2 separate regions of the Homo sapiens genome follow, and region 1 is linked to region 2. Evidence: fine-mapped expression QTL. A gene starts in region 2. The other region holds a variant in brackets. All regions are shown on one strand. Distances are between the middles of the regions.

Region 1 (2,903 bases), 70 kb after region 2:
CCCAGCTGCTGGGGAGGCTGAGGCAGAGAATTGCTTGAACCTGGGAGGTGGAGGTTGCAGTGAGCCAAGATCACACCACTGCACTCTAGCCTGGGCAACAGAGGGAGACTCTGTCTCAAACAAACAAACAAAAAGATTGTACAGGCAGGGCACAATGGCTCAGGCCTGTAATCTTAGCACTTTGGGAGGCTGAGGCAGGCAGATCACCTGAGGTCAGGAGTTCAAGACCAGCCTGGCCAACATGGTGAAACCCTGTCTCTACTAAAAATACAAAAATTAAGCCAGGCGTGGTGGCGGGCGCCTGTAATCCCAGCTACTCTGGAGGCTGAGGCAGGAGAATCGCTTGAACCCGGGAGGCGGAGGTTGCAGTGAGCCAAGATCGCGCCATCGCACTCCAGCCTGGGGGACAAGAGCGAGACGTCGTCTCCAAAAAAAAAAAAAAAAAAAAAAGGTAAAGAAAGAAAAAAAAAAAGAAGAGAAAACAAAAAGAGCCCAGATGCACACTCAGGCGACAACTAAATATAAATATCTGGGCTCATGCCTGTTACAGTGGCTTATGCCTGTGACCCCAGCACTTTGTGAGGCTGAGGCAGGAGGATCACTTGAGCCCATGAGTTCAAGATCAGCCTGGGCAACATGATGAAACCCAGTCTCTACTAAATATACAAAAAGTTAGCCAGGAATGGTGGCATCCACCTGAGGTCTCAGCGACTCGCGAGGCTGAGGTGGGAGGATCACCTGAGCTCGGAAGTTCAAGGCTGCAGTGAGTCAAGAATACGCTACCGCACTCCAGCCTGGGCAACAGAGTGAGATCCTGTCTCAAGACACAAACAAACCTCTGTGGAATGACCCTCGAATTGTGCTAACAGAGGAGGTCCTGGGACCTCCTCATCAGACTCTGGGAGAGAGAAGGGGCCCAGGCGGTTGGCAGGTTTCCTTTTATTGGTTCTAGACAGTTTGTGGAAGGAAGAGATGAGGCCATCTAGAGGCCGGCAGGCTCGCCCAGTGCCCCAAACACTGCCACCCTGAAGTAGTGTTGGAAGCTGCTCCAGGGATGTTGCAGCCCTAAGCACAGTGACAGGTGGGGGCAGGAGCAGCAGGGGTCCCCGAGGTGTTGAGAGGCTGGTGAGGGCACAGAGAAGGGACCTCCTGGGGCTGAGGCCCCTGGTGGCCCTATGTGTTGGAGCACGCTGGCGCTTGTCTGTCCGGCCTCCAGTCACGCCAAGGCCTCCTGCCCTGACCACCAGCAATGCTGGCCTCAATGTGGCTGAAGCTGGACGTGTGACTTTGACCCCGTGAGGGGGTCCTGGGAGGGCTCAGTTGCTGCCGTTGCTGTCGTCACTGTCCAGGTATGCACCCAGTTGGCTCAGGGAGGACGCGCCAGGCGTCAGGGGTGTAGGGTTGGCCTCCTTCCTGTTCTGCGGGGCTCCTGGTGGGAGAGCGAGAGTTAGCTCATCTCAGCTCCA[C/G]AGCAGACAGGCCAGGGACAAGGCACGGGGCCGGCCACCTCTGCAGGTTTGCAAGGTCCAGAGGTGACAGCATGTGAATGGCCTGGCCTTTCTGGATGGCACCTGATGGGACCCATTGCAGATTTACATCTGCACACCCGGGACTCAACAGCTCCGCTTCTGAACAATGGCCAATGCAAACCTTGCCCAGGCAGGCAACGTGCGCTGCCAAGAATGGAAATGGCGCAAAGTTCACAGTCCAGTCACTGTGGACTTAATCGCCTTAGGAAACATCATACTAAGGCAACTAAAAGACAAAAACAGGCCGGGCGCGGTGGCTCATGCCTGTAATCCCAGCATTTTGGGAGGCCGAGGTGAGTGGATCACCTGAGGTCGGGAGTTCCAGACCAGCCTGACCAACATGGAGAAATCCCACCTCTACTAATAATACAAAAATTTAGCCGGGCGTGGTGCTGTAGTCCCAGCTACTTGGGAGGCTGAGGCAGAGAACTGCTCAAACCAGGGAGGCGGAGGTTGCGGTGAGCCGAGATGGCACCACTGCACTCCAGCCTGGGCAACAGAGCAAGACTCTGTCTCAAAAAAAAAAAAAGAAAAAAGAAAAAAGAAAAAAAGAAGCCGCCTGCCTTCTCTGCTCACTCCACTAATTGGTCCTGTGGGGGTCGCAGGCCGCCCCCACCCACCCCATGAAGTCTCTGTAACTGCAAAGGGAGCTGCTGCCACCTACAGGCCACTATAGAAACCGCGCCCGGCTCTGGGAACTCTGTGACCTTACCTGGGGTGGGGGCCGCCTGAGGCTGCCCGTTGCTGCAGTCCGGGTCGGCCTTTGCCTTCTTCACCACGACCAGCCTCGACAGCGGGGGCCGGCTGCCCAGGCTGCCAACGCTCTGCTCCCAGACCTCCACCTTCCTCTTGGGCTTTGGGGCCTGCAGGTGATGGGGACACATGTGGGGGTCTGGCCCGGATCCAGGGCCCAGTCTGGCCCCTCGCCACAACCCCTGCTCACTGCCCCATGCCCACTCTTCCACTGCTGCACTGACCACATTCCTCCTCTGCTCTAAACTCCTCTATGGCTCCCCACTGCCCTAGGCTTGGCACTCAAGGCCTCTGCCCATTCTCCATCCCACATAGCCTGGTCTGGCACTTCCTGAGTCACACCATGGCTTCTCATCTCCACGCCTTTACCCATGCTATTCCCTTCACCAGGGATGCCCCCTTTTCCATGCACTCGCTTGGTGAACTCCTACTCACCCTTCAATACCCAACACAAGACACCCCTCCTCTGAGAAGCCCATCATGGTTCAAGCTCACATGCAGGCTGCATGTCCACGCTCACAGTGCCCTCTGCTGGCTGTTATAACTCTCTCCCCAACTCTGCCGTGAGCTCCTGTCTTCCCCACTGCTGGCTCTGCGGTGCCACAAACAGTTCCTGGCACAAGG
Region 2 (2,903 bases):
CACAGTGGCACACACCTGTAACCCCAGCACTTTGGGAGGCCTAGACTGGAGGATCACTTGCACCCAGGAGTTCAAGACTAGCCTGAGGGCCGGGCACGGTGGCTTATGCCTGTAATCCCAGCACTTTGGGAGGTCGAGGCAGGTGGATCACAAGGTCAGGAGATTAAGACCATCCTGGCTAACACAGTGAAACTCCATCTCTACTAAAATAAAAATACAAACAAATTAGCTGGGCATGGTGGCACGTGCCTATAATCCCAGCTACTCGGGAGGCTGAGGCAGGAGAATTGCTTGAACCTGGGAGGCAGAGGTTGCAGTAAGCCGAGATCGCTCCACTGCACTCCAGCCTGGGTGACAGAGTAAGACTCTGTCTCAAAAAAAAAAAAAAAAAAAGACCAGCCTGGGCAACATAGCAAGAACCTGTCTCTAGTAAGTGTAAAAATTAGCTGGGCGTGGTGGCAGGCACCTGTAATCCCAGCTACTTGGGAGGCTGAGCCAGGCGAATGGCATGAACCTGGGAGGCGGAGCTTGCAGTGAGCCGAGATCACGCCACTGCACTCCAGCCTGGGCTACAGAGCGAGAGTCTGTCTCAAAAAAAAGAAAAAAAAAAATTAGCCAGGTGTGGTGGCATGCAACTGTAGTACCACCTACTCTGGAGGCTGAGGCTGGAGGATCACTTGAGCCTGTAAGGTCGAGGCTACAGTGAGTCATGATCGCCCCACTGTACTCCAGCCTAGGCAACATAGTGAGAACTCATCCTTAAAAAAGGAAAATAAATTAGCTGGGTGTGGTGGTGCCCACCTATAGTCCCAGCTCTTCGGGTGGCTGAGGCAGGAGGACCGCTTGAGATTGGGAGGTCAGGGCTGCAGTGAACTATGATCGTGCCACTGCACTCCAGCATCGACAACAGAATGAGACACCGTCTAAAAAAGAAAAATTGCAGATGAAATTAAAGTTGCTAGTCAGCTGACTTTAAAATAGGGAGAGTAGCGTGGATTATCCAGGTGGGCCCAATGTAATCATTAGGGTCCATCAAAGTAAGAGAAAGGGCCAGGTGTGGTGGCTCATGCCTGTAATCTCAGCACTTTGGGAGGCTGAGGCGGGCAGAAAACTTGGGGTCAGGAGTTCGAGACCAGCCTGGGCCAACATGGGGAAACCTCGTCTCTACTACAAATACAAAAATTAGCCAGGCGTGGTGGCGGTCACCTGCAATCCACGCTAGTCAGGAGACTGAGCTTGGACTCAGTCTCTGAACCCGGGAGGCAGCGCAGTCTCTTGAACCCGGGAGGCAGAGGTCGCAGTGAGCCAAGATCATACCACTTTACTCCAGCCTGGGCAACAGAGTGAAACTCTGTCTCAAAATAGGAAAAATAGATAAATAAATAAATAAAGAGACAGACCATGTCTCTGTCTTTGCAGATATAGCGAAGATTATTCTCCCATTCAAGTAGACTTATACATTCTCTCTGTTCTCAGTTCCACACCGGAGAGGCGGGGATTTCCCTAGGATCACTGGACCTGCTGGGATCAGCCTCTGCCCAGCCCTGGCAGGGGAGGGAGTTGACGGGCTGACACAGGAAACTCCCCTGAAACCTGTTTCTCAGCTTCCCGGCCCAGCTGGGGCACCCACTGGAAGGAGAGGCCAGGCGGAAGACCCTGGCTCCGTCATGGCCTCTGCCCTGAGGCCACCCCGTGTCCCCAAGCCTAAGGGTGTCCTGCCTTCACACTACTATGAGAGCTTTCTAGAGAAGAAGGGGCCCTGTGACCGGGTAAGGTGGGGAGGCGGGGGCTGGCCCTGCTGGGCCACCGTGGGGAGCTGCGGCACCTCTCTGAGTCCCTGTCTCCCCACTCGCCAAGGGGGGGCGGGGTGGGTGCTGGATGGGGCAGGACACGTGCTGGGGGACTGGGGTGGGTTCTGGCCATCTGCCTCTCTGTGCGTCTATCTCTGTCTCCGTGTGTCTTTGAATTTGGTTTCTTTTTCTCTTTCTCTCTCCCTGGCCCCGTCTGTCTCTCCCGATGTCTGTCTCAGTCTCCCTCTCTCTTTGTCTCAATCTTTGCTTTTGTCTCTCGTTCACTCTCTTGAATACAAACAAGATCAGGGACTTCCTCCAGGAAATGGGGAGTCCTCTGACTCCCGAGCTTCCTCCCGCTCCCAGCCCAGGAAAAACTCCGTGAACCTCAGCTGCTGGGGCGAAGGCCAGGACAGGTGACATGTGAGGACAGTAAGAGCTAGCGGGGGCCACATTCCACAGGACAGATAGTTGCCATGGACAGTGCGTGCATGTGTGTGTGTGTGTGTGCTTATGTCTCCCTCAGAATAAAGTCCCAGCCCCTCCGTTCCCCGTGAGGCCCTATCTCTCCTTCCCAATGCCGCATATTCATTTTCTTTCTTTCTTTTTGTTAGAGACAGAGTTGCTCTGTCACCCAGGCTAGAGTGCAGGGGCACGATCATGGCTCACTGTAGCCTCAAACTCCTGGGCTCAAGTGAACCTCCCGCCCCAGCCTCCTGAGTAGCTGGGACCACAGGCATGCACTGCCTCTTCTGGCTTTTATTTTATTTATTTATTTTTGAGACTGAGTCTCACTCTGTCACCCAGGCTGCAGTGCAGTGGCACCATCTCGGCTCACTGCAACCTCCACCTCCCAGGTTCAAACGATTAAGCGATTCTCGTGCCTCAGCCTCCCGAGTAGCTGGGATTACAGGTACGCACCACCACACCTAATTTTTGTATTTTTAGTAAAGACAGTGTTTCATTTTGTTGGCCCGGCTGGTCTTGAACTCTTGACCTCAGGTGATCCACCTGTCTCGGCCTCTCTAAATGCTGGGATTACAGGCATGAGCCACCGCACCCAGCCTTTTTTTTTTTTTTTTGAAGATGGGGTCTTGCTGGCCAGGCGCAGTG

What was found. PIP is the estimated chance that this variant, and not a neighbour inherited with it, causes the effect.
Region 1: its variant is fine-mapped to the expression of STAP2 in stomach (GTEx, PIP 0.90).

Annotation. Positions count from the first base shown.
Region 1 is chr19:4,267,110-4,270,012 of GRCh38, reverse strand. It overlaps YJU2 (YJU2 splicing factor homolog), which reads right to left. Exons shown (of 8, transcript NM_018074.6): 7 at 2,239-2,389; 8 at 925-1,429. The coding sequence ends at 1,317. Among named protein-coding and RNA genes, the nearest start is that of SHD, 11 kb to the left of the region's middle. The variant C/G (reference allele first, on the strand shown) is at 1,467.
Region 2 is chr19:4,337,518-4,340,420 of GRCh38, reverse strand. It overlaps STAP2 (signal transducing adaptor family member 2), which reads left to right and starts at 1,594. Exons shown (of 13, transcript NM_001013841.2): 1 at 1,594-1,769. The coding sequence starts at 1,668.